Linked DNA regions of Homo sapiens. The protein of the gene in region 4 interacts with the protein of the main gene of each other region in a pairwise test. Each region holds a gene or a part of one and is shown on either strand. Other genes may lie near its edges.

Region 1 (7,520 bases), on a different chromosome or scaffold from region 4:
AAAATAGTGTTTCCTTAAGTTGTGTATGTTCTGCAAAGGCAAGGCCAGTCCTTTTTATCATTTCCCCAGCTTGCCTGTCAGTTGCCTGGATTGAAGCAAGCAATCAATAAATGTCTGAAGATAATTAAATGTTTTAAACAGCTATTTCCAATGACTTAACTATGGCCTTCTTTAACACTAGAAATTTAAATTGAATTTATCTGTCAGAATCCAAACATAAAAAACTAACTTTGACTAAGGTAAAACAGAAAAGAAAGTTTTGGAAGGATACTAGGTCTCTCAGGAAGTCGGCAGAAAGCCTCGAGATCAAGATTGGAGGACAGGGCTGCTGAAATCACAGAGTGCCATTATCCATTTGATTAATTCATCCTCAGGGCTCCCCTGGCACTGTGGCCACACTCAACACTACACTGTGAGTGTCTACTGCCATTAATAAACTTCCCCGCACATCCCTTGATTCAGGTTTAAACACACAAGTGAAGTGTCCTATCAGCTGAGCCTAGCTCTCAGCCTGTGCTCCAGCTACCAGAGAAGAGGGAGAGGATCTCCTTTCTTTCCTTCAGAAGGGGCGAGTTCTGCCCCCAGTCAGGAAACACACCATGGGGATAGGCACTTAAAGCGGAAGGGGATTTGGATCCTAAGCTGCCAAGGCAACAAAAATGTCCACTAACCTGACTGAAAGGATTCTGAGTCATCACTCAAAAGGGAAGGATAACCTTCCCTAGAATTTAAGATATAAATAAGATAGATTCCCAGCTGTCTGAAATGGTTTAGATAATAGTTCTTCTACAAGGCAGAGATGGATTGAAATACAATATATTCCCACACAGCTATCATCTCCTGAAATGCTAGAAATATCTTCACGTCAAAGTCTTATCATAGGAAGCCTGAGAGCTGGAATCTGGAATTACATTTCTATTTTTTTTAGGCCCTTGCTACAAAGAAGTTGCATTTCCTCCCTCAAGTCGGTTGTCTGCTGTTTGTGACTGATACTATGCACAGCAGTGAGGCATGTGTGTTTCACGAAAATGTGTGAAAACTGCTTTCAAAAATGCATGCCATCTAGATAAAAAGAAAACTATAAAAATATGTTTGGTTGCCACTTCGTAGAGCCTATTGAATTTGTCTGTGAATGTGAATCTAATTGCCATTTTTTCTACTACAGCCTCTGTGAACATTACATTTCCATTAAAAAGAGAAGTCAGTTACAGCAGAATGTATTCCTGTGTTCACATAGGAATCATAAAAATAAATAATGATCGGTTGATTGCTTAATAATTTATGTTTCTCCTTGATAGACCATTAGAGGAAATAAGCAAATCCACAGGTACAGAAAATGTCATTCATTGTCAGTAAAGTGTTACAAACAGCTTCCTGTAACTGAAGTGTTTGTAACTAAAGTGTTACAAACAGCTTCCTGGTTTTGAATGATGACTGCTGATTATTCTCCTGTTCTTCATTTATAATCAGAGAAAGTCTCCTTTATTAACTATTCTTGTTACCATGGGATTGGCATAAAAATATTATCACTTGTGTGGTTGAATTTGAGGGCTGAGGGACCCGCACAACTTGGGTTAGAGGGGTCAGACTTAAACTGCACTTGTTGCAGAAAAATCTATTCCATTCTTCATCCAATGGCAGGAATAAACAACATGTTATTTTGATAAATTCAGTAACTTGATGTTAATGGTTGACAGCCCCCCTCCTTCTCGTGGTTTTTCTCCTTCAGTGATTTGAATGACCTGTGTCTATCTGATGGGTTGACCAGTATGTTTTTTTTTTAAATGATTTTGTATCTATTTTGATGAACAGTTGTCAAAGAGAAGGGTCTATTCTCACTGTTCAGGTAAGGAAATTTGCAGTTAATTAGGAAAATGCACATAAAGATGTCAGATGAATATTCCTAAAGCACAGCTCCAATCAATATCTCACCCCTGATTAAGTTTAATGTCTCTAACTCTCTACCTAATTAAGTCCAGAGTTCTATCCCCGGGCTTCACAGATTTTCATCCTATAGCCTCTGCCTATTTTCTGAGATTTTATTCTACTTTTTTCCTGTACTGTATGTACAGCACAGTTAAGTTTGGTGATTCTTAATCCTTGCTGCACATCAGAATCACATGGAAATCTTCAAACAAACAAACATTAATCCACTGGGCCCACCGCATACTAATTGAAAGTGAATTTGAGGATGAAGCACAGGCATCAGTTTGGTTTGTGTGTGTGTGTGTTTGTGCAGGGAGGGTTAGCTCCTTATTTTGGTTATCTATTGTTACAAATCCAACCACCTCAACACTTATTTGTATGAAACGGTATACATTTTATTATGTTCCCAATTCTGTGGTCCAACTGTTCTGACACAGCACAGCACTGGTAGTGTGCCTTTACTCCATGATGCCTGGGGTTTTGGCTGGGACAACTCACATGGCTAGGGATGTCTGCAAGAGCTGGGAGCTGGAGTCATTTGCAGGCTTCCTCATTGACATTTCTGCTGCTGAGGCTGGGATAATGCAAAGGCTCTGCTTAGCTATACCTGTAAGCCAGGTGTCTACACTTGCCTTTCCATATACCTTGGGCTTCCTCAAAGCATGGTGGCTTAAGGTAGAAAAACTTCCTATACGGAAGTTCAAGAATCCAGGAGCAAATCCACTGTAAAAAGTGGAATTGCAAAGGCTTTTATGCCCCTACCCTCGGAAAGCACATAGCAACACTTCTGTTCCATTTCATTCATTGTAGCAGTCACAATCTTTCAGATTTAAGGGGAGGGGACCCACTTCTCTATAGGAAGAATGTCAATGAATTTGTGGGCACATTTTAAAGTTACCACACACCCCAGGTGATTCCAATGTACAGGCAGCGTTGAGAACAACTGGATTCATTTTTTTTTTTTGTAAGCACCCATCTACAAAGGAGCAGTGGGACTTGGGTGAAGTGAACAAGACACCTAGGGTGCAAAATTTAAGAAAATCATTCTCAGGATCATGCAAGCACAGGATAGAGATTGAGAGCAAGTGCCTCCTTACATTCTGTGCTCAAGTGGCCCCACTTGCCACACCCTAGTCCTGAGCCTACTACATAGCAACTGTGTATGAATCATTAGGGTGAGGGGGACTTGGATTTCTGGACTAGACAGTACTTTAGTATTGGGATTTGGAAAGCCCAGGTAGGATCTGGGATTCTGTATGTTTATAGGAATCCCCAGTGGACTACTTCCAGCTTCCACGTGCTTTCCTGGTGCCATGCTTTGCTTACGCTGTTCCTTCTGCCTGGAAGTGTTTTCCTTCTATTTCTATCAAGCATGGAGTATCCACTGATTTTTAAGGTCCATTTCATATACCGCTTCTTTCATCAAGCTTTTATTGGTCCCCCCAGCCAGAGTGTAACCTGTCTCTCCTGAGAAACCCCTAGCATGTTTTACATGCCTTTAAGACACTCACATGTTGATCAGCATTTTGGTTGTGTGTGGGCCTGTCTTATAGGAAGAATATGTTTACTTTTCTCCAAAGGCCACAAAATGGAGATCTGGATCCTCCTCACCCGTTCTCACTGGTAGAGGCAGAGTCTTGTTTAGACAAGGTTCCCTCTTTTTTGCCTTATCTCGCTCCCAGATAGCTCAAGTTTGTAACCAACACATACACATTTTAGATGCCCAATAAACTGGATCTCTCTCCTGATGAAAGGTGTGGTCAGTTTCCTATTTTTACAGCCTTCGCAGAAGCCGTCAAATATTGAATAATTACCCTGGTTTAAATGCTTAAACACAGATAAGGACTTCGTCTTGTGACTTTGGGAAACTTCATATTTGAACATTACCTAACAATCCTTGCCCCATAGCAAACGTTTCGAAGCCTACTCTAGGCAGAGTTCATAGCACCGCCTTTGTCAGCAGCACTGCCATAGGTAAGCCTCAGAACCCTCTGGGGTGAGACCGGTGTAACCATTTTACTGATGAGGAAAAGTGAGGCTTACAGGTTAAGTCCTTCGAGCGCAAGATAACACCGAATGGCTTAATCCCTACACCAAACCAGCTGCTCCTCGATTGCTGGTATTCGTGAACCCTGCCCCCGCCTTTGGGGAAGGTCGGGCAGACAGGCCACTGGGACCAAAAGCAGAGTAGGTAGAACCTCTCTGAGTTCCTCCCTATTTATGGCATCCACTCAGGTGAGGCTGGGGGCGTCCTTACCTTGCGCTTTGGCTGCTCAGGACAAACGCCCTGCCATTCGTCCCTTCTCTCTGTCCGGACGCCCTCCTCCATCCCTGCACTTGGGGCCGTCGTGGGGCTGGTAGGGGTCCCCAGGCTATCTCCAGCCGTGGCCGATGGCCGTGCCGGGGGCAGAGCCCGCTCCCCTCCGCGCGTTGCTACGTGCGGGGATGACATGGATCCAGACGCCGTCAACTACGGGAAGGAGGAGGCGAGAGTTGGAGCGCGTGGGAGCGCAGAGGCCGGAGGAGGGAGGGGGGGACACCGAGCGCGGAGAGCGCGGAGAGCGCGGAGGGAGGCGCGCGCGGGAGCGAACACCCTCCCGGATCCAGAGCCCGGCGGCGGCGAAGCAGCAGCTGCGGCCGCGCCCTTGCCAGAGCCGGTGCGTCCGCCTAGCCCCGCTCCGCCTGAGGCCGTCAGGGCTCCCGAGGATGGAAGATTCCCAGGAGACATCGCCGTCCTCCAACAACTCCTCGGAGGAGCTCAGCTCTGCTCTGCACCTGTCCAAGGGCATGTCGATCTTCCTCGACGTAAGTACAGATGGTGGGAGCTGGGCGGTTGCTTCCCAGCACCTTTCTTTTCCCCGAAAGGAAGGGGTTCGGCTCAGGTGCTGACCAGCCAATGCTTTGTCCCCAGAACACAGGCGAGAACTACCGATGCAAATGCAGGAGGAACGACTGTCCCTTAACTTGCAGCTAGGGCTGTCCCAGACCTGCAGCTTGTGGCTTAACACCCTTAAGAAAACTGCAAAAGTTAGATTTTCCAACAGGCTGGGTTTCGTAGAGACACTATTGCAAATACAACAGACAACATTTGAGTGCATAGGACATTTTAAAGAGGCACAAGGTGTGGGGGGTGAGGTGGGGACAGTGTCCCAACTCATCTCTCTAACGCGCCCTATTCGCAGCCTTCACACTCGTGGATGCTCTCAAGCAACCCAGCCAGGGAAGCAGCAGCGATTGAGATGCCCTCGTTATCCTCCCCCAGACCCCCTCGGAAAACAATTACTTTGAGCATATTTGTTTTTCTTTTTACAGCGGTGGGAAATATCATTTTCATAATGATTCTTTTTGTCACTGCCACCTCTTCTATTTTCCCTTTTTCTTCCCTGATATTCTCCTTCTCTCCAAGTTCTAATTACTACTGTCACCTCCATGAATTCTAGCTTTTGACTATTTTCCCTTTGGTCCAATTTCTCACTTCGGTATCGACTGCCTGCCTTCATTACTCTGATCTGATTACATCCTTTCTTTTCCTTCTGTGCTGTTTCTTTTTCCCGTATGGTGTGGTTTCTATCTTTACAGCACTTTTATTTCTTATTTATTTCTCAATTTTGTTTTCCTCTCCTGCCTGCTGTTTCTGTTTTCTCTATTTTTCCGTCTGTTGCCTATCTCTTCTCTCTGCTTTGGGGTTTCTCTCAGCTGCTTGCCGGGCTCCAGGCTCTCCCAGCCCCTCAGTTGTCACATTCATGCTGTTGCCGGAGGTCGTGTCTATCTCAGTGGGGACAATTCTGTCTGCTTCTTGTTTAGGCATGATAGAAAATGTCAAAGGACATGGAGGAGTGCTACGTGCTCTGTCCTTTACCCTTCTCTGAGTTATCTTTTCTTATTAAAGTCAAAATGAGTGGGAGATGGGCCAGAAGCCAGATACATTTGTTTGTGGAGAGATGAAAATATGAGGAAATCAATTAGTATCATAATGGTGAGGCAGAGATAAAGAGGATAGGAGGATGTGAGGCGCTCTCCCAAGTTTATTTTGAATGGATTGGCTAGAATTCTTTTTAATTCTAGGGAAAGAAACTCCTATCAATAATTCAAACTGTTGTAAGGCAAATGATAGAAGTGAGGTTCAACTGTGTGTACTGGCAGCCTTCACCCTTTATCACCTGGTGGCTCCAATTGGTGATCCAGGCATTCTGGGCTGGTCATCTCCTTCCCACCAAATCTCAGGTGTGGTCATTCCTATTCAGCCACCCAATCAGGTGGTTAAGTACCTTATCCTTCATGAGCATTTATCTCTGCCTGGCTTGGGTCAGTCAGATGGTATTATTGGTGCTCATGGCTTAACGGGCTGATCTTATTCAAGTTTTGCTGTTCAGGGCCATAAAGCACTTGAGGAGGTAAGCTGAGAAAAGAGAAGGGCACCACAACATGCCTGAAAAGTCAGGGCCCCTGGAAATCATGTCAGTTATGAGGCTGACAATTAAGGGGCCATGGAGTTGATTCAAAGGGGACAAGTGGGGCCTCCATTCATTCTGACCTGATCTTCACTCTGTCCCCCATTGAGATCAAGTGCTTCCCTGTGCTTTTTAAAAAGCACTTAACAAACCCCGGTGATAGTGTGGAGATGAATGGATTAAAACTACACAAATGGAAAGTCATCCTCCTGACTCATACACCAGCCATTGCTTAAGTGTTCAACTGCAATGTTTTCGAAGAGAAAATTAAAATTTCATTTTTTATTATGTATGCATGATTGTTTCCAAGTCTGTAAACAAATAGCATCAGGTCCCTGTACTAAAGGAACTTGTAGTCTGTGAATAGGGTGGTCTTGCCTTTTATATTTCAGAGATTTAAAAATAAAAATAGGAAACTGATTCCCTATGAGAGGTGTTGACATGCTTGTTTGTCGGTAAAATGCTAGAGTCTACAAAAAAAACCTGCCATTGGATTTTGTGTCAAATGGAAAAGATTTTGTTTACACTTTTCTTTGAGTTATTTTGTGAAAAATCTAACACTGGTGAAATATGTGATATGAAAAATGATTTGTTACTTAGGGATTTGTGAATTATTCATTTCTGGATCATACCACTTTTAGCAAAATAAAATATAAAATATACATGCATCACTTTATTTATTTGATTTAATATATTCTATGGCACTAGCAAGAAAGATTACTTTTAAAATTATCTTCATATTATAATACATAGGTGATAGATATTACCTGTTCCAAACTGGAACAGGTAATTTTCTGTGTGTCTTCTGTATCAAACAGACAATTTCCAAATTTGAGGAAAACTTTGATTTGCAGTGCTTTTTATTGCAATGTCACTGGAATAATCAATCATTTAAGAAATGATGTAAACTGCTACTGAGAACACTATTAATGACATGATACATGACCAGCTGGTTGGAAACTAGAGACAGATTTTAACAAGAAAATCAGAGATAGATTTGCCACAACTGTTGGCTTTTCCTTCAGTATCCTCTCCAAATCAGCAATAGTAATCACTATGATACTTCCTTAGGCTGTTGTGAGTATGAAATAAGGGAAAATGGAAACAAAGCAAAAAGTATTGCATAAATTTGAAGTATTATGG
Region 2 (7,050 bases), on a different chromosome or scaffold from region 4:
AGGAGCTCCTCATTAAAGGGAACAATGTTACAATTCAGCATTTAATAGCAGGAATGTGAATAATAACGCGCCATATTTCAGCCCACTGTCTGCAAAGAAAAGAGAGCAGTTTACAAACAACTCAAGCAGCCGAAAGTTACATTTAATAAACCTCCGAGGTTTTTGTAAGTGGAAAAGCAATTAGGGCTCTGGGCATACTACCCAATTCTTCCCACAACACCCGGTATATATTTTTATTCTGTCTGTTTCTGTGTCTACAAAGGATTCACAATGCACGCAGAAATACGATTAGAGAGACAATCAGAATTACAAATACAATCAGCACAAATTCCTCTGGAAGGCACCAGCTGCCCGGGGGCCCCATCCCACCCCACCTCCCGGTCTAGACACACATTTCTAAGTCTTGATCTGGAACTGGACGGCAAAGCAGGAGTAAAGACACTGATTTGATAGTTGCTGTGCTTGTAATTTACATTATCAGTCATCAAGTTTTTTTTGTTTTGTTTTTTGTTTTGTTTTTTTTTTTTTTAATTCTCCCAGCAAGCCGACTTTCCTCGCAGCTACAGAGTTCTCTGGCTCTGTCTGGGCGCGCAGGGCGGCTGGAGTCAGGAGCCGATTCCCTGGCCTGTGAACGCTCTTTGTGCTTCGTTAGAAAAGAGAAGGAGGGAAAAGGAGAAAGAAAAAAATGATTTCCCTGTGCATCGTCCCTTGGCAGGATCTTGTACAAAATTCAATCTCTATTTTTTATGAGAAGTAAACTGTCTAAATAAATTTTATTAGGGGCAACCAATATATTTTCTGGTAGTTCCCTTTGTTCCACTTCTACGTGTGTGTAACAATCTAAAACCTATTTATTGAGGAAAAATCACTGGATCCGTCATAGAAAATCCTTTTACTTTGCTTTGAAGTGATTTCTGAAGACATTCTTGTCATTCCGAAGATTTGGGGGCCATTGCGCTAAAGCTTCGCCTTGTTAGGGACTTCAGTTCCCATGATCATGTGGGAAATGCCTTAAATTATCAACAGCAATGGGCCTGACCGGCACTTTCCCGGCTGCCCCAGGAACGTGGGAAGATGACGGGGAATAAAACTCTGGTAAATACATATCAGGCGCTACCCAGGTGGATTCAGACATTGGCCAAAACGAGCTACCGAGAGGGAACCGGGAGCAGGGGGGAGCTTTTTACATCCAGGCTATTGTCGTTTTTCTCGCTCTGCCTGCTGGCGGCGGGCACCTGGCTCCAACTCCAGCCTGCGCCCTCCCCGCCTCGACGCCCCACACCGCCCCCTTCCCACTCTCAGATTTCCCTTTTTTTTTCTTTCCTTTCTCCCTTCCCCCCCCCGAGATGCTTATGCTCTGAAGTCTTGCAAGAAATGATTTAGTTTGTTTATACTGCTATAAAAATCAAGACCAATAGAAAAGTCATAAAATGAAGCGGGCTATCAATCATGCCGCAACATTGTTATTCAGCGGTTACTAACAGAGATGGATAATCCTTTGATTTCGTCCCATTGTTATTACTCTGATGTGTCTTCACATTAACTATTACACATTCATTTATCGACCTGAAAGATACAACAAAACAGAATATACGAGCGAGTGCGTGTGGGAGATCGCTGCACAGCCGGCGCCGTTCCGGGGGCGACTGTGGGATGGGGACACTAGCGCTTGTGTGCACGCACGTGGAGACGCGCGGCCCCGCGCCCTTATCCTTGTCTCCCCAGGTCGCGGCCCCTTCTCCCTCCCTCCAGACAGCGTGTGGAGCCAGGCTGTGCGGCCTGGCGGACCTGCCTATTTCTGGGAGCAGGGTTCTGGAGCCAGGTCTCCCTGTCTCTTCCTTAGCCACTTTCCCCCCACTTCTGACCCTGCGTTCCGGTGTGGACACCCTGCAAGCCCCACCCAGGTGGGCAGAAACCTCCTGCGAGTCCCTGGACGTGCGCGGGCCGGTGCGTACTCCCGAGTCACCGTCCTGAGCTCACGCCGCCCCTCCCTGGGCTGCTGTCTGGCCTCCTTTTGCTGTGCGCTCCCAGCGCTCTAGCTTCTAGATTTGAGGTTTTGTTTGGGGGCAAAGAAAGCTTTTATTGGGGAGACTTTGTTTGCTTTAGGTCTCGGAATTCTCCTCCCAGGCAAAGCGTTTCTCAGAAGGGCTGCGGCCGCTTGCCAAAAACCCTAGCGGCTCCCAGACACGCCGCGAGCCTGAGTCCACGACCCCGGCGCCCAGTCCCACATAGGCCGCGTTGGTAGCAGCTGCAGCAGCCGCTGAAACCCAGTCCGGCCCGGAGCTTCCCGGGAAGCGGTCTCCGCAGCTCAGAAGAAACTGGTGTGGCCAATACCCTGCATTCACACGTGTGTGCATATGTGTGCGCGCGCACGTGTGTGTGCAGGAGAGGAGGCGAACGGGCTGCAGGAGGGAAGGAGGAAACAAAACTGCCCGAGAGTTCGCTTTGCCGCCTCCTTTGTCTCCTTGCTCGGTCCCTGTCACACATACAGCTGAGGACACACACACACACACACACACACACACACACACACACAATTCCTCTCGCATCTGCTCTCAGCCAGCATTTTCAATGTTTTGTCTAAGTCAATTGGACGGCGAACAAAAAAAGCCATTTGCTCAGTATTATTTAAAACAGACTTCATTGGGCCACCCTTTTGTGGAAGGTTTATTTGCACTAAATGAATAATCTTAATTGCATCACTCTCGAATTAAAAATCAATGTTAATCAAGTTGGGAGTAGTAAATATCAGTTTTCATTGTGACTGGGTAGAGGGCATTTTTCTTGTGTTGCAAATAAAAATACAAGTCAAATAACTTTAAAAGGGCATTATGTTCTGCTACAAATACAATTGAAACGGATTGTTTAGGAGCAGATCAGAAATGGTACAGAATTTTGCACTTAATTTCCTCAGTTATCATTTACAATAAGAACCTCTAGGCTTGACAGCCAAGTCTAAACAGTAGTAAATTAGTACAAATTTATACTGATTTTACTCTAATAATCGTAATAAAAGCTTATAGATTTGGCACTAATTACATAAATGCCTAATGATCTTGAAAATTACTCTGGTTAGAAATATATTACTAATCTAAACTTTGTTGTTGGCTGGCTCTGAAAAATCAGAACATTAGAAATGGTTCGCTTCACTTGTGCAAAGCACTTTAAATTGTTCAAGTAGTTTAACATATTCAAGAGGAAAATAAAGAGCATTTAACTTTATTTACAGCCTTAAGTGGAGTTGGGAGCCGAGCTGAACTTAGAAACTTTGACCAAAAGAGCGAGTTAGGGGCGAGGATGCGGGCGTGGGCCAAGCGGAAGAGCAGGAGCCGGGAAGAAGCCCGGTGAGAAGAGTGCAGAGCGCTCGAACCCACACTCCGCGAGGGTCCCCAAAGCAGACAGCGGGCGCTGGCGGTGCCAGGGAAGCCGACTCCTCTTTGCGCTCTAGGCCCACTGTGGGGTTGGGGCTCGTATAGACCCCAGGGCACAGCCAGGGCGCCTGGACCCTAGGCGCAGGCCTACTGAGCCGCGGCGAAGTCCAGGCGTTGTCTGAAGGCCGCGGTGTGCCCTCGTCGCGCCCTGGGCTGGCGGGCCAATATGAGCGGCAGGCCCAGAGAGCGCAGGTGGGGGCGACCCTCAGGTCACGCCAGGGTCATGGCCCGCTCTGACCCCTGCTCTGCCCCTGCCCTAGGAAGATGTTAGCTCAGAGGCACAGAGCTACGCCTTCGAAGCGCGCAGCGCCGGCCAAGGGGAAGGAAAGGGGAGCCTGGAGAAAATCGCAGGGAAGAACTAGAGGGAGCCGGGCCCAGAAGCTCAGGGCGAGGCCGAGGCGGCTGAGGCTGCTTTAGCTCCTGCTCCGGGCTGGAGCTGCCAGGGCTGCCGCCGCCGCCTCCTTCAGGCGGGCGCAGGCGAGCGGGCGGGCGGAGTGGGGGACTCTCCGGGCGCTGACATTTGCAGGCTGCCCTCCTGATTGGTCCCCTCGCCGAGCTGCTCACGGGTTCATTCAACTGTTAAGCACCTCCCCGTCTCTCTAAAGGACATTATAATGCAAGAAGCCCCCTTTTTAACCACAAACCGAATTTTCTTTCATTTAGGTGATCTATATATATCTATATCGTATAGCTTATAGCTTATATCTATTTTAAATAACTTAAAGCCGCTAAAATTTGGGGGGGAACAGCTTTCGCCCTGGAGCGGTGCGCGATGCTGTCTCATGCCGACCTCCTGGACGCCAGGCTAGGTGAGTGCGCGCCTCTCGCCCGGGCAGCCAGGAGAAGCCGGGGCAGGAAATTGTCAATTTGTTCCTTATTTTACCTTAATGCGACCTAAATGGACTAATTTCTTTAAAAGTAATTGTGCTGCATTAAAGTTTAATTTGATTTAACATCGCCTTTAAAAAAAAATCTATGGAATATGTAGATCCAAGAAAGGAGTTGGGGAATGTTGTTACTTTTTGTTTTTCTTATTTTTCTCTTCCCCCCTCCCCCGCCTTTTTTTTTTTTTCGAAAGGCGATATACCCCGTGATAATTTGTTAGGAGGTGTTTCTCTCTCTTTTTTCCCTCTCCTGTTTGTTTTGATTTGGGATTTCTTTCTCCTTCCCTCCCCCCGTTTCTCTCTCCCCACCATCTTCTTCTCTCCTCCTTTTCTAAGTGTGGTGTAATTTGTAAAAAATCTGGCATAAAGGAGAAGCTGCTGCCATCAAGGCGGATTTGCTAAGTGTGCTGGTTGAGAAGGAGAGAAGCCAAATTCAACCTCACAGTCATCCCCCCCTCTTCTGCAAGGGACTCAGCGTTGCCAATGGCTGTGAGGAATGCGCCTTTTATTTCTCTGGAAAGAAAAGTTGAAATCTCTAAAGTTTGATTCACGGTTGTCCATAGAGTTCACTCGAGTTTCCTTAATGCTATCTGGGTTGCTGAGCTCTGGGTTTCCGGATTGGGAATCTTCGGTGATGGATGTGACTCCATTTTCCAAACACTTTCTCTGATTTGAGGGGGAGGCGGAGCTGATTTGGGTTGATTTCGGGGGGTGAAAGCTTGGAGGCTTATTCATCTTCCGAAAGTAAGAGGGAATCGGCTGAGGGCCGGAGGTACAGTTCGTCAGGCTGCCGAAGCGCAGGTGCCGCAGCAACCGAGGAATTGTTTAATTTTCTTTCTGCCCCCCGCACCCCTGTGTCCAAAGATTTGCTCTCGATTTCCTGGGGCGCCTGGGGTACGGTTTATGGAAGGGATTCAGAGGCATGTTTTATTGCCGGGACTGGGAGTGTTTTATTGTGGGAGAGACGAAAGCTTGTGCTGTTTACTACGGGAGCCGGCTGCGGCGAGGGCAAGGGGCCGGGAGATATTATTCCAACCCGGCTGTCCAAATTCTGGGGAACCCAGCTGAATACCCTGGGAGTTTCTTCCTTAGGACAAGCGCGGGTGCGGAGGGGGCCGAGGACGGGTTGAAGGAAGGCTGCGCGGGGAAGACAGCCCCTCCTGGCATCGCCAAGAAAGTAGTGACCGCGATCCCCTTGCCTCCTCAGGTATGAAAGATGCCGCCGAGCTTCTGGGCCACCGGGAGGCGGTGAAGTGTAGGCTGGGCGTGGGGGGCTCCGACCCCGGGGGCCATCCGGGGGACCTGGCGCCCAACTCTGACCCAGTGGAGGGAGCCACTCTGCTGCCCGGGGAGGACATCACCACAGTGGGCTCTACTCCGGCCTCGCTGGCGGTGAGCGCCAAAGACCCGGACAAGCAGCCCGGGCCCCAGGGCGGCCCGAACCCCAGCCAAGCCGGCCAGCAGCAGGGCCAACAGAAGCAGAAGCGCCACCGGACGCGCTTCACCCCCGCACAGCTCAACGAGTTGGAGAGGAGCTTCGCCAAGACTCACTACCCCGACATCTTTATGCGTGAGGAGCTGGCACTGCGTATCGGGCTGACCGAGTCCCGAGTGCAGGTACGAGGGGCTTGGGATCTGGGACAGAAGGCAAGGACAGGGCGGGAGGATTTGGGCAAAGGGAGCAGGGTCTTCCCTTCCCCTGTCGAGATCCTGGGCTGCTTTCAGGCTGCCTGTGCGTTCCTGTATCGAGTTATCTCCTTCTCTACCCGGAAACTGGTCCCCATCGCCATCCCCCAATGGACACGCAAGGCCCGTCTCCGGCCAGTATAGCGACATCCCGGAAGAAGCTCCTCAAAATCGAAGCCCGGCGTTGTCGGGCTACAGGGTTCGCCTCCTCCGCCTGAGAAGGCAACCTCAGCGCCCCCCCGGGCGGCCCAGCCGAGCGCACACCTCAACTCCTGCTCGCATTATTGACAAATATTACCCCCTAATGAGTTTGTGTTAAGCGTTTGGATAAAAGGAGGAATGCAACAATTATACAGAAAACAAGAGAAAAGAGCAAATAAGGCGAATGAGCGCCTTTTAAAAAAGTGCTACACCCAGGTTTCACGGCGTGGCTTTATTACCTTAAGTATCACCCTCCCTCTGCACTCAGGCGAAATATTCCTAGCTTTGATGTTTGCAAGGGGTTTGAACTTTCGTAGTCTACCAGTGCGCTGGGGGCAGCTGACGAGATTCCCAAAGCCGGTGAGCCCCGTTTTGTTTTGGAGTCCTCTAAGGAAGCTACGGTGGGGGAGGGGAAATGAAGGCTTTCTGTTGTGGATATCATGTCTGAAGAAGGGGCATTCAGAACGGGAAAGGTTGACAGGCAGTAGAGGAAATCATTGCTGACCCCTTATTCTCCTCCAACCACTCTCCAAGCTGTAAATTATATATAACCTAGAAAATCACACCTATAATTATTCTGAAAATTGGTGAATAAAAGTATAAGCCTAGTGAATCCCAGATTTTTGTTTGTTTTTTTTTTTTGTTTTTTAAAAGAAAGAATGAAGACATATCAAATATTTTATGGACAGGTGCCTGGAGGTGAAATTCCAAGCGCCGGTACTCACTCTTGAGCTATCCAGGGTGCTGAAAAATCTTCCTTTGCCGTCTTGGACGGTGGTATTTTCTGTACGATATCCTGGGTGTCATCAACCTGGTCAATTTGTTAAACCAGTGCTACCTACTTTTAT
Region 3 (6,921 bases), on a different chromosome or scaffold from region 4:
CAAAGTGTTGGGATTACAGGTGTAAGCCACCGCGCCCGGCCCGAGGTATGCATTATTATTAACTACGGTTACCACACTGTGCAATAGATTGCTAAAACTTACTCCTCTTGTTTAACTGGAACTTTTTGTACCCTTTGATCAACACCTCTCTATTCCCCGTTTTCTCTGTACGAGGATTTGTTTTTGGTGTGGCTTGTAACTTTTGACTTTAAGCTCCTCTTTAGTGGAGATTGTTTTCTGTGAGTGTTCCATGTGGCCTAGATTATGTGAGTACCCAGAAGCCTTGTTATTCAAAAATCAATCTCTACTCAAGAACATTTTTCAGTAATTGTCACTTTTCTCCCCTTCCATACAAATTTTTCCTCCCTACTGGATCATTCTAATCAGTGTGTAAGCATGCTGTAAGATCTCCTAATTTGTCTCATTTTGCTATTTCTTTTTATAGCAAAACTTCTTGAATGACTTGTCTATATTTGCTGCTCTAATTCTTCTCTTCTCGTTCCTTATTGAACTTATTCCATTCAGGATTTCTCTACTCCCAACCACTCTTATAAGGTCAAGGTCACCAGTGATTTTATACTCCTGTTGCTCAGTCAATTCTTAATCCTCATCTTACATTTGATCATGGCATTTGATTAGTTGATGATTCTTTCTTTCTTCCTTTCTTTCTTTCTGACAGAGTTTCGCTCTTGTTGCCCAGGCTAGAGTGCAATGGTGTGATCTAGGCTCACTGCAACCTCTGCCTCCTGGGCTCAAGCGATTATGGGTTTATACCTTTTCTTAAGGTGCCAGTTTGTATATTACAGGCGTGCACCTCCACGCCCAGCTAATTTTGTATTTTTAGTAGAGACAGGTTTTCTCCATGTTGGTTAGGCTGGTCTCGAAGTGCAGACCTCAGGTGATCTGCCCATGTCGGCCTCCCAAAGTGCTAGGATTACAGGCGTGAACCACCACACCCAGCAATTCCTTCTTTCTTTGAACACTTTATGCAGTTGGCTTCCCGGATACCACTCTCTGTTTTCCTGCTACCTCAGTGGCTCCTCAGTTTCTTTCTCCTTTAATAGATTTTTCTTATTACCCTGACCCTATATGTTGGCGTGGTCCAGGGCTTGGTCTTTATAGTGCTTCTCTTTATTGTCACTCATTGTTTCATGGCCTAAACGTTTATGGGTGGGCCTGGTGGCTCGCACCTGTAATTCCAGCACTTTGGGAGACTGAGGTGGGTGGATCACCTGAGGTCAGGAATTTGAGACCAGCCTGGCCAACATGATGAAACTTCATCTCTGCTAAAAATACAAAAAGTAGCTGGGCACGGTGGCAAGCATGTGTAATCCCAGCTACTCAGGAGGCTGAGGCAGGAGAATCACTTAAACCTGGAGTCGGAGGTTGCAGTGAGCTGAGATTCTGGCACTACATTGGGCAACAGAGCAAGATTCTGTCTCAAACAACAACAACAACAAAAACTTTTGCAATTTCCTCTGCCTGGAGGTTCCCACAGATACACGCAAGGCTTGCGTCTTAATTAACTTCCGGTCTGGATTCAAGCCTGTTTTATCTGTTAGTCCTTCCCTGACCATCCTATATAACTTGCACTCCATCTCTAACAGTACCTCTCCTCCTTACCCCAATGTAATTTTCTTCACAACACCTATAATTACCACTTGTGCACTTATTTATTGTCCAGCTCACCCTACAAAATATAAGTCTTGGGAGGGCTGGGACTTTGTGTGTTTAGTTCATTCTTGCATATATAGCTATTGGAAGAGTGCTGGGCACATCATCTGGTAAATATTTATTGAATGAGTAAGTGAATAATAGAAATAGATGACACCTTTTCATTATTTCCTAAGCTGAGGTAGATATCTCCCTATTTTAAAAAATATTTTGATTGTTCAGCCTGTTTCGAAATAAGTGTTTATGCCTTTTCCTAAGGTGCCAGTTTATAAAGAAATTATTAAACTTCAAAGTGTCATTTTCATATCAGGAACCATCTACCAGGATTAGAGTTCTCAAACTGAGGTTTGTGGGTTCCAAGGATGGGTTTCAAGGCTGTGTTAGCTCCCTGGATTTGAGTGCAAAGTGTTGTATGTAGATGTGTATGTGCATTTTTCTTGGGAAAAATTTTACCTTCCATCAGATTCACAAAGGAGTCAGAACCCAATTAATGGTTTTGAATTACTGTTATCTTCCTTGGGTGTTGATCAGCTAAAAGCGAACACATTGAAGATAAAACTCCTATAATCTTCCCCTCTAAACCACCTTATCTCTTGACTTTCTTAGAAGCAGAGCACATTGATGTTGGAAGCAATACCCAATGAAGGTGTCCCTCTAAATGTGCCTGGTAAATTGTTAGCCATGCTGTCCTCAGGAACTCAAAGCAGCGCCATCAATCACATGAATGTTAGAAACGTCCAGCTAGGTGCCATGGCTCATGCCTGTAATCCCAGCACTTTGGGAGGCCAAGGTGGGTGGATCACTTGAGGTCACGAGTTCGAGACCAGCCTGGCCAACATGGTGAAACCCCGTCTCCACCAAAAATACAAAAAAAAAAAAAAAAAAAAAAAAAGACTAGAAACTTCCACCTATGTCAGGCTGAAACAGTAGTTTCACACATAGGATCTTGTTCAGACCCTGGGACTTAAGAGAACATGTCGAATCCCTTTTCCGCTGGTCACTTTTCAGGTACATGAAGATGTAATCCCATCCCCGCATCAAGCTTTATTTCTCCAGAGGAGGATCTTTAATTCTTGTAAACATGGGACAGGTACAGGACATGTTATGATAATGACAGGTACAGGACATGTTATGATAATGACAGGTACAGGACATGTTATGATAATGACAGGTACAGGACATGTTATGATAATGACAGGTACAGGACATGTTATGATAATGACAGGTACAGGACATGTTATGATAATGACAGCTCTTCTTTAAATTTTTATTTTTTATTTATTTTATTTCCATAGGTTATTGGGGAACATGGCAGCTTTTTTTGAATACCCTCCTCTTTGCCAGTTGCCCAAGGTGGAACACCCAAACTTTGACATGATACTTCCATTAATGCAACTTAGTATCACAAGTTGATGTCGTGGCCCAGCACAGGATGGCCTGGAAACCGGCAACACTGGACGCTGGGGAAAGGGTAAGAAGGTCTTGACCATTACAAATGGTGTGGAACTGAGCCGAGGGAGGGATAGTGAGAAGGGAGAGAGGGTGAGGTGTCTGAGAGACAATGAGGTCAAATCAGAGGATTCAGCCATTGTTGGCGTGTGGGAAAGGGAAGGAGAAGGGAAGAGTCAGGGATGACATTTGTTGAGAGAGAGAGAGAGAAGAGAGAGAGACGCAGGTGGAAAGAGGATGGCACCACATTGGACTAGCCCCAACGGAATGGGGAGAAGTGGGAGAGGACCCAGGGGATGCAGAGCTGATGAGAGTGGGAGAACCAAGACAGAGGAAGAAGGTTGGGGCAAATCAAGTGTCTCAGGGAGGCCCAGTGAGGCAAGAACGGAAAGGAGAAAGGCGGCGGTTAAGAATCAGGGATAATGGCAGAGCGTTGCAGCTCTGCGGGTGGGACTGGGCGGAAGGGTTTGGGAGAGACAAAGAAATGATCTTTGAAGGCCTCGCAGTGCTTGGCCGAGTGCCTGGCACAGAATAGGTGCGCAATAAATGACGGGTGAGAAGTGAAGGAACTCAGGAACAGTGATTAGTGAGTGAGTGACGGAAGGAACGGAGGATGGCGTTGGCTCGGGAACCTCGCTGCCATGTCGGTGGAGGCTCCTGGGCTGCAACGCCAGAGAGAGGCGGGGCGTCCCCGACGGCCAATAGGAGCTTCGGTATCAGCTCCGCCCCCGCCCCCTAGCTCCGCCCGGTGCCGCACGTCGTTCGCCTGCCGCCTGAGGCGCGCGCAGCCACCCAGCTCCCGGAAGTGCGCCCGGAGCCGGCGCCGCGGGCCGAGGTGAGCGCGCTTGCGGGGCGGTCCCGGCCTCCGGCCGCTCGGGGTCAGGCCTTGCGCTATCTGCGTCCGCACCTGACTCAGCTGGGCACCCCGGAGCTACGGAGGGGCCAGCGGGCTCCCTTGCCCATGCGTCTGGGAGCGCGCGGGGGACGTGGCGAGTGCGGGGCCGGGGCAGCCATGGCTGGGAGTGGACCGTGGGTGCGGGGGGATGTGTGAACCCCGTCCCGGCTCTGCATTCCTGCGCCTCTGCGCCCCGCGGGACCGGCCGGGTCTCTGCACTGGGACCGAAAACGGGCTCCTCCCCGCTGTCTTCCCCTAAGGGCTGAAAATGAGTCTCTGGAAGAGGAAACCCGATGGGATGATGCCTGGAGTCTCTCCCTCTCTCATCAGAGTGCAGTCGGCATTTGGGGGGCGCATGGTGGAGAATACATATCCAATGAGCAGCGCTGCCCTGGCCTCGAGCACTAAATGCCAGTTCCCCTAGCTGCTTGTGACAACCAGAAAACGCCCCAACAAATCACCAGACGTTGGCAGTTCTCCCCAAAGCAAAGGCTTTAGAGCTTCCTGGGTTAATCTGGCTGCCACTTGTGAGCCTCGGAGGTTCCTGATCTGTACACCAGGGTAATTGTGGGAATTGGAAATACATGAACCGAGCTTAATAATGAGCCGATACGTAGTAGGTGCTTAACAAATGGTTACTTATATATGTAACCATGTATGTAACCACTTGTGTATATTACACCTAGAATGCACTTTTAAAAATTCATTCTATTTGTTAAAGGTTTAATAACAGGTATAACAGACAACCTTATTTTTTTTTCATAACTAATGGGGGCAGTTCCTCATGAGGTTATCGGAATATAAACTCTATTAAATTTTTAATACTATATAAAGTAATTTAATTTTGAATAATCGAGACATTTTTCTTACACACTACCTGGGAGTATAATATTACTAACAAAAGATTTAAGTATTTTATAAAATCTGTAGTTTTTCCAAAATGTCATTTCTCTTAAATATTATCTAAACTGCTATCTTAATTTAGGAAACAGATAAATTGCAGTAAGTTTACAGGTCGGTATCTTGCTATCTAAAATCTTGCCGCTTGTTATTTGAAACTCTTGAGCCAAATAGGTTGGATTTACAAAGCAAGGTATTTTTAAAAATATATTTATTCGTTTTTTAAGATGTTATTTGAAACTGTAGGTTTACCTCTGAGCTAAAGCTGCTTTTCAGGTGGTTTGATAATGCTGTCATTGTCACTCAGTATGAAAACATATTTTAATTTCCTTTGTGATTTTTTTCTTTGACTATGGGTTAAGAGCATTATTTAGTAATTTCCATAAATTGGGATTTTCTAGTTATTGTTATTGATTTCTACTTTAATTGCACTATGATCAGAGAATATATTTGAACCCAGGAAGCTCTAAAGTTTTCCATTTGACCTTTCTGGTTTTGTTTCTCTTGTGTTCCTTTTCTATCAGATATTGGGTTTTTGAGTGTTTTTTGGTATTGCTTTAATGGCTTTTTAGCAATACCACTTTGCGTAATATTTTTAGAGCTAATTTTAAGATATCAGTCATTTGAAAATTATGCATATGGTCTGTTTTGATGAATACTCTTTGCACTTGTAATGAATGTATACTCTGCAGTTCTTGGGTCTAGTGTTCTGAAAATGTCAATTAGAGCAAGTCGGTTGATAGTGTTCAGATTTTTTGACTTCACTGACTCTTTTTTTTTTTTTTTTTGAGATGGAGTCTCCCTCTGTCGCCCAGGCTGGAGTGCAGTGGTACGATCTTGACTCACTGCAACTTCCGCCTCCCAGGTTCAGGCTGTTCTCCTACCTCAGCCTCCTGAGTTGCTGGGATTACAGGTGCGCACCACCATGCCCAGCTAATTTTTGTATTTTTAGTAGAGATGGGGTTTTACTGCGTTGGCCAGGCTGGTCTCAAACTCTTGACCACAGGTGGTCCTCCCGCCTAGGGCTTCCAAAGTGCTGGGATTGCAGGCGTGACCCACCGCGCCTGGCCTGGGTTTCTTTTTTTTTTTCTTGCAGTGGTGTGATCTCGGCTCACTGCAACCTCTGCCCCCTTGGGTTCAAGCAATTCTCCTGCCTCACTCAGCCTCCCTGGTAGCTGGGATTACAGGCATTCACCACCACGCCCGGTTAATTTTTGTATTTTTAGTAGAGATGGGGTTTTGCCATGTTGGACAGGCTGGTCTTGAACTCCTGACCTCAAATGATCCCCCTGCCTTGGACGCCCAGAATGCTAGGATTACAGGCGTGAGCCACTGCGCTCAGACCTGGGTTTCTTTTTAAGCAAAAAATAAATTTAATGAGGACCACATAAAAAACATTTGGTATTGGATTACGGTTGCAAGGGTCCATTTATACAAGGATTTTCATCTGCCTCTGTGACTCCTGCGACTGCAAGACCAACCCTTCCTTCTCCTTCTCCTGTTCCTTGTCCTCTTCAGGCTACTCAGTGTGAAGATGATGAAGGTGACCACCTTTATGGTGATTCACTTCCACTTAGTGAATAGTAAATGTAGTTTCTCTTCCTTATAATTTTCTTTTTCTTTTTTTTTTGAGACGGAGTCTCGCTCTGTCGCCCAGGTTGGAGTGCAGTGGCACGATCTCAGCTCACTGCAAGCTCTGCCTCCCAGGTTCATGCCATTCTCCTGCCTCAGCCTCCCGAGTAGCTGGGATCACAGGCGCCCGCCACCACGCCTGGCTAATTTTTTGTATTTTTAGTAGAGAAGGGGTTTCACCGTGTTAGCCAGGATGGTCTCGATCTCCTGACCTTGTGATCCAGCCACCTCAGCCTCCCAAAGTGCTGGGATTACAGGCGTGAGCCACCTGGCCTGGCCTCTTCCTTATAATTTTCTTAATAATATTTTGTCTAACTTACTTTATCACAAAAATACAGTAACATGCAAAATGTATGTTAATCAACTATTTA
Region 4 (7,025 bases):
CTCCTCGAAGGTGGTAGAGAATTCTCCGATGAAGTCGTGCTTTCCTCGAGAGTCGTAATCCCAGACCAGGCACTGGGGAGCCCAGTCCTCCTCAGCACTGCTGTCTGGGGGCCCCAGGACCCTCCCACCCGAGCCCAGGTGTCTCCATCGCAGCCCACATCCAGGCCACCCCCTCACTGCCCCCTTGGTCCATCCCGTCCCCCACCTTTAGAGGCCTTGTCTCCTCGCAGCTGCAGAGGGAACTCAGAGAGACTTTGAAGGCCTCCCACACCGGGTTCAGGTTGTTCTTCACCACCTGTGGGCCGGGAGGGGCTGGCTCAGGGGAGGCCCAGGGCCCTGGGATCCTTGGGGGGGATAGAGACCTGGGTGGAAGAGCAGCTGTGAGGCGGGCACAGCTGGCCCTGCCCCTGCATCACCCCAGACAGCGCCGGGGCCCTGAGCTGGGGCTGGCACCCACTCCCTGCACGAAGCCATGTGAGGACCCGGGAGACACATTTCCGAGCCCTGTGCCTCCACCTTCGTAACTTCTGCCACCTCTGAGCCACCTGCGCTGCTCTCTTCCTTAAATAGATTCATTTTCACTCAAGTTAATTTCTCTCAAAAGAAAGCACTCTCTCCCTGCCGTCGCTGAAATCCCATTTCACCTGCAGGAAGTGGAAGGTAGGTCTAAAAATAATCACAGCCACGACTACACAAGCCTGCTGGATTCTGGCCACAGCCACGGCCCCCAGGGCCCTGCGCCTGCGGCTCCCTGTTGGATTCTGGCCATAGCCACAGCCACCAAAGCCCTGCGCCCACAGCTCCCTGTTGGAGGCTGGGAGCTCCTCCCATGTGGCCAGAGATGCGTGAGGGCTGGGGACAGCCCCTTCCCCTCCCTGTGTTCCCATCCCCGGCCGCTCACCTCCGTCCTGTACACCAGCTGCAAGCCCTGGTCGTCGTTGACCCTGTAGAGCTCCAGGAAGGGGTCGGACTTGCTGAAGAGGTCCTGGGGAGAGGCACAAGGGCTGCTGGGCCAGGCACTGTGAGATCGGGCTTTGGATGGGAGCTGGCTTTGTCGTTTCCCAGGGCTCACTTCATGCCACCAGCCGCTAATTCCTCAGGCACAAAACGAGGCAGCCAGTCCCCGCCGACAGCATCTCGTCCCTCCCTCCCGCCCCCAGGGATCTGACCACGGCGGGCAACTCAGCCCTCCATGGAGTCACCCTGCACACCCTGCGACTCAGCCCTCCACGGACTTGCCCTACACACCCTGCGACTCAGCCCCTCCAGGGAGACGCCCTACATGGCGGGGTTGGACCCTGTTCTGCCCACCCACGTGACGAGCCCGCAGAACCGCGCGCTGTTCCAGTTCCTCCTGTCACGACAGTGGCCTCGGGGGTGCTGGGCCTATTTCCCCATCCCTGAGCAGGGTCATGAGTGGTCCCCACAGGAGGGAGCTGCCCCAGCCCCAGCCCAGCTGCCAGGAGGGGCGGGAGAGCTAATGGCGGTGACAGTGATGATGGCGACCGTGACGGCAGCACGCCCAGCCCCAGGCACACTCCGCACACGTCTCACACGGGACATAGCCACGCGAGGTCAGCGCTGGGCAGGGACCGGGTTTTCGAACCGGTTCCCGGACCTCAGCCTGAGCCAGGCGTGCCCGGCACCTGCACTCACCTTGTCGTCCAGCTTCCTGGCCCGGAAGGAGAGCTCCACGTAGCCGTTGTTCCCCGAGATGTCCTCGGCGATCACCTGGCAGGGGGACGCCCGGGCTCCAGGCTTGGCCAGGTGGGGCCTGACCCCACCGTGGGGGACCAGAGGCCCCAGGCTGGCTGACCCCACCCAGCGGGGCCTGAGAGGAGGTGTCTGTGTACCCCCGGGGCTGTGTAGCTGCCGGCTCCTGCAGACCCTCCCTGGACGGCACGCTGCTGCCCATCTTCCGCCCACAACACCCCTCGGAGCCACAGCAGCAGGGCCTGCAGGCTGCAGGGGTGCGCCCGGGTCTCACCGTGATGGTGGACTTGCCAGCGTTCCTGCCAAACTTGAGCAGCAGCGGGCGGGTCACCTTCTTCTGGGCCACAATCTGTAAGTCAGAGGCGTCAGGCAGGGAGGGGCAGGCGGGGACGGCTCCTGACCCTGGAGACCCCACCGCGCCCTCACCCGGACTCTCAGGCCTGTCCTGTCTCCCCATCCCCCACCATGAGCTTCACTGCCCAGGGCCCGCGCCCCCTTTGTGGCTGCTCTCAAGCACCTGCCATCCCTGCGTGTGGCCACCCCTGCACGTCCACCACCTCACGGCGCCAGCAGTCGCCCAGGGGAGGCAGAGGTCATCATACCTATTTACCAGGTGAGGAAACAGGCTCAGGTGGAAGCCAGGAAGCAGCTCACAGCCCAGCTGGCCTGCACCTGCACAGGTGTGGCGGACGCCCCTCCACAGGTAAGCAGGGCTGCCCTGACCCTCTCCAGGCCCAGGTGAGAACCCGCAGAAGCAGAGGCGAGGCAGCTCAAACGGCCCCGGACCCTCACGCCCAGCATGTCCACGTAGCCACGGGCGGCAGAAAGGGTGTGAGCGAGGTGCCGGCCCAGGACCCCACCGCCCACTCCTCTTCGAAGGTGCCAAGGAGCAGAGTTGATTGTTCGAAGTGGACTGGGGCTTAGACCCTGGGGACCTCCTCATGCAGCCGGGGCCTCCTCCTCCTCACCAGGCCCTGCTGGACTTCCGCCCCATCGGCTATGAGCCCACCTGGGGTGGGTGGCGGATGACAGGCCCAGGCCCCTGCAGCCAGGTCATCTCCTCAGTGAGGAGCAGGACGGGGGCACACGGCCCTCCCAGGCTCCGTGTCCGAAAGGAGATGGTGATGACCCCGGCCAAGCGGGGTGGCCGTCATCTCCTCACACGTAAGTGATCTCAGCAACCATCGAATGGCCCACCAGGTAGCAGGTGTGTGCTTCCCACCTGCCCTCACACCTGCTACTGCCTGGCGGATGCTGGGAGGTCACAATGAGGTAGGTTGAATACAAAGCAGAGAGGGGCAGTCCCTCCACCCCCAACCAGGGCCGGCCTGGCCAGCAGCTTCTGAGCATGCGGCACTTTCCACACAGAAGAGAAAGCAGATCCCAGGTCAGGGCTGGGGAAGTCAAGTCAGGTTAAGGGGTGGGAAGGCTCTCTTAGGGGTGCAAAGGGGTCCTGGGTGCTGGGAGGGGGAGCCTCGGGCCAGGCCCCCCAAGATTCCCTGATTCAAAGGTTTCCTTCTGGGGCTCCTGAGCCAGGGCCTCTGCCTCACACCTGGGACTCGCCTGCCGGCCTGGTTTGCTTCCAGGGAGGGCGCAGGAAAGGAGTGGCCTCCCCTTTCTGGCAGGAGAGCAGGTCCTTAGGAGAGAAACGGGCTCAGGCTAACACAACAGATTCCCCTACCAGGAAATACGAGATCGCTGATTTGTGCCAACAGCGTTTAATAAGCACTTCCTGGATCCCTGGCTCTGGGCTGAGTTACTGTTTACTTGAATCACATGAGGAAACAGTTGAGGCAGAAGTCAGGGGTCAGAGGTCAGGTCAGGCTCAAAGCCACAGCACAGGGACTGGATGCCAGTAGCTTCTCCCTTGACCGTGGTGCCCTGCAGGTCAGCTGGGTGGCCACAGAGCAGGAACCCACGAGGGGCCTCCTCATTGCTGGAAGTTTGCACATATCCACAGCACACGTGCTCACACACACATTCATATCTGCACGCAGGTGTCCACACGGACCCTGTGTGTGTGCTTATGTGAACAGGCATAGGATGTCCTGCACGGATTATGACATACATGTGCACCTGTGTGTACATAGAAAGGTGTCCAGGCCAGACACAGTGGCTCATGCCTATAATCCCAACATTTTGGGAGCCCAGGGTGGGTGGATCGGTGAGCCCGGGAGTTCAAGACCAGTTGGGGCAACATGGTGAGACCCCTGTCTCTTCAAAAAATGCAAAACGTAGCCAGGTCTGGTGGCGTACACCTGTAGTCCCAGCTACTCAGGAGGCTGAGGTGAGAGGATTGCTTGAGCACAGGCCGTTGAGGCTGCAGTGAGCTGTGACTGTCCCACTGCACTCCAGCCTGGGCGGCAGAGTGAGAACCCAACTCAAAAAAACAAAAAAAGCATGTCCATATTTCTGTGTCCGTGCCATCCTCTTCCATCTGTGCCCTCCCTAACTCTCAGTTTCCTTATCTAAAAAATGGGGAGGACAACAGGATCGATGGCACGCCAGCTCCGACCGAGGCTGCAGGGGGATGAGTCACGCAGACATTATGTTGGGTAAAAGAATTCCACAGCAGGGAGAACACGCGCTGTGATTCATGGACGTGGAATTCCAGAAGAGACGAACCAGGCGGGGAGCTGGCCACAAAGGGGCAGGGGCAGCTGCGGGTGACGGGATGTTCCGTGTGATGGGTGACGGGATGTTCCGTGTGACGGGTGATGGGATGTTCCGTGTGATGGGTGACGGGATGTTCTGTGTGACTGGTGACAGGATGTTCCGTGTGACGGGTGATCGGATGTTCCGTGTGAGTGGGTGATGGGATGTTCCATGTGATGGGTGATCAGATATTCCGTGTCAGCGGGAGACGGAATGTTCCGTGTGACGGGTGACGGGATGTTCCATGTGATGGGTGAGATGTTCTGTGTGATTGGTGAGATGTTCCATGTGACGGGTGATGGGATGTTCCGTGTGACAGGTGACGGGATGTTCCATGTGATGGGTTACGGGATGTTCCGTGTGACGGGTGACGGGATGTTCCGTGTGACAGGTGATGGGATGTTCCGTGTGATGGGTGAGATGTTCCATGTCAGCGGGTGACGGGATGTTCCGTGTGATGGGTGAGATGTTCCATGTGACGGGTGATGGGATGTTCCGTGTGACGGGTGATGGCATGTTCCGTGTGACGGGTGATGGGATGTTCCGTGTGATGGGTGACGGGATGTTCCGTGTTACAGGTGACGGGATGTTCCGTGTGACGGGTGAGATGTTCTGTGTCAGCGGGTGATGGGATGTTCCGTGTGATGGGTGAGATGTTCTGTGTCAGCGGGTGACGGGATGTTCCGTGTGACAGGTGAGATGTTCCGTGTGATGGGTGATGGGATGTTCCATGTGACGGGTGATGGGATGTTCCGTGTGACAGGTGAGATGTTCCGTGTCAGCGGGTGACGGGATGTTCCGTGTGATGGGTGAGATGTTCCGTGTGATGGGTGATGGGATGTTCCATGTGACGGGTGATGGGATGTTCCGTGTGACGGGTGAGATGTTCTGTGTCAGCGGGTGACGGGATGTTCCGTGTGATGGGTGAGATGTTCCGTGTGATGGGTGAGATGTTCTGTGTGATGGGTGATGGGATGTTCCGTGTGACGGGTGATGGGATGTTCCATGTGACGGGTGATGGGATGTTCCGTGTGACGGGTGATGGGATGTTCCGTGTGACGGGTGAGATGTTCTGTGTCAGCGGGTGACGGGATGTTCCGTGTGATGGGTGAGATGTTCTGTGTCTGCAGGTGATGGGATGTTCCGTGTGATGGGGGAGATGTTCCGTGTCAGCGGGTGACGGGATGTTCCGTGTGACGGGTGAGATGTTCTGTGTCAGCGGGTGACGGGATGTTCCGTGTGACGGGTGAGATGTTCTGTGTCAGCGGGTGACGGGATGTTCTGTGTGATGGGTGAGATGTTCCGTGTCTGCAGGTGATGGGATGTTCCGTGTGACGGGTGAGATGTTCCGTGTCAGCGGGTGACAGGATGTTCCGTGTGATGGGTGAGATGTTCCGTGTGATGGGATGTTCCGTGTGACGGGTGACGGGATGTTCCATGTGACGGGTGAGATGTTCTGTGTCAGCGGGTGACGGGATGTTCCGTGTGATGGGTGAGATGTTCCGTGTCAGCAGGTGACGGGATGTTCCGTGTGATGGGTGAGATGTTCCGTGTGATGGGTGTGGGATGTTCCGTGTGACGGGTGAGATGTTCCGTGTCAGCGGGTGACGGGATGTTCCGTGTGATGGGTGAGATGTTCTGTGTGATGGGTGATGGGATGTTCCGTGTGATGGGTGATGGGATGTTCCATGTGAGCAGATGACGGGATGTTCCATGTGATGGGTGAAGGGATGTTCCATGTGACGGGTGAGATGTGATGGGTGATGGGATGTTCCGTGTGATGGGTGAAGGGATGTTCTGTGTGACGGGTGAGATGTGATGGCTGACGGGATGTTCCGTGTCATGGGTGAGATGTGACAAGTGATGGGATGTTCTGTGTGATGGGATGTTCCGTGTGACGGGTGATCGGATGTTCCGTGTCAGCAGGTGACAGGATGTTCCGTGTGAGGGGTGAAGGGATGTTCTGTGTGACAGGTGAGATGTTCCGTGTGACGGGATGTTCTGTGTGACGGGTGATGGTCAGCTGTGTACAGTCACCTAAACTTGTCATTCTCAACCCTTAAGATTGATGCATTTTATCGTAAAATTTTTTTTTTTTTTTGAGACAAAGACTCACTGTCACCTGGGCTGGTGTGCAGTGGCGCGATCTCGGCTCGCTGAAACCTCTGCCTCCCAGGTTCAAGTGATTCTCCTGCCTCAGCCTCCCCAGTAGCTGGGACTACAGGCACGCACCACCACGCCTGGCTAATTTCTTTTCTATTTTTAGTAGAGATGGGGTTTCATCATGTTGGCCAGGCTGGTCTCGAACTCCTGACCTCGTGATCCCCCCACCTCGGACTTCCAAAGTGCTGCGATTACAGGCGTGAGCCACCGTGCCCGGCCTGTAAATTTTACCTCAATAAAAAAGAAGGACCCGTCCTGGCAAGGTGTGAGGATTCCGTGCAGCACAGGAAGTGCTTAGCGCAGTGTCCAGCAGGGCCCAGCACATCAACAGACACTCTCATCACGACTTGCAGAAGCCACTTTTGGGCTGGCTGTGGAGGCCGTAACCCAGAGAGCATCACCAAGGAAGCAGTGGCCACCGTAGGACCTGCTGCTCACAAGGAGGCTTCTTTTTTTTTTTTTTTTTTTGAGACAGAGTCTCAATCTGTCACTCA

The links.
Region 1: the proteins of CPNE7 (region 4) and NECAB1 interact in binary tests that used the Homo sapiens proteins (3 or more experiments, as listed by UniProt).
Region 2: the proteins of CPNE7 (region 4) and OTP interact in binary tests that used the Homo sapiens proteins (3 or more experiments, as listed by UniProt).
Region 3: the proteins of CPNE7 (region 4) and ZNF18 interact in binary tests that used the Homo sapiens proteins (3 or more experiments, as listed by UniProt).

What each region holds. Positions count from the first base shown.
Region 1 is NC_000008.11:90,787,255-90,794,774, forward strand, and holds the start of NECAB1 (N-terminal EF-hand calcium-binding protein 1), read left to right. Parts: upstream 1-4,520; 5' UTR 4,521-4,632; coding exon 4,633-4,731; exon of another isoform or gene 4,732-4,914; intron 4,915-7,520.
Region 2 is NC_000005.10:77,635,703-77,642,752, reverse strand, and holds the start of OTP (homeobox protein orthopedia), read left to right. Parts: upstream 1-4,039; 5' UTR 4,040-4,203; coding exon 4,204-4,240; intron 4,241-5,522; coding exon 5,523-5,932; intron 5,933-7,050. UniProt on the Homo sapiens protein: Probably involved in the differentiation of hypothalamic neuroendocrine cells.
Region 3 is NC_000017.11:11,994,468-12,001,388, reverse strand, and holds the start of ZNF18 (zinc finger protein 18), read left to right. Parts: upstream 1-3,913; 5' UTR 3,914-3,958; intron 3,959-4,016; exon of another isoform or gene 4,017-4,116; intron 4,117-4,278; exon of another isoform or gene 4,279-4,579; intron 4,580-5,709; exon of another isoform or gene 5,710-5,831; intron 5,832-5,862; exon of another isoform or gene 5,863-6,921. UniProt on the Homo sapiens protein: May be involved in transcriptional regulation.
Region 4 is NC_000016.10:89,578,734-89,585,758, reverse strand, and holds part of CPNE7 (copine-7), read right to left. Parts: intron 6,903-7,025; coding exon of another isoform or gene 6,763-6,902; intron 2,316-6,762; coding exon of another isoform or gene 2,231-2,315; intron 2,063-2,230; coding exon 1,988-2,062; intron 1,732-1,987; coding exon 1,657-1,731; intron 986-1,656; coding exon 902-985; intron 296-901; coding exon 206-295; intron 73-205; coding exon 1-72. UniProt on the Homo sapiens protein: Calcium-dependent phospholipid-binding protein that may play a role in calcium-mediated intracellular processes.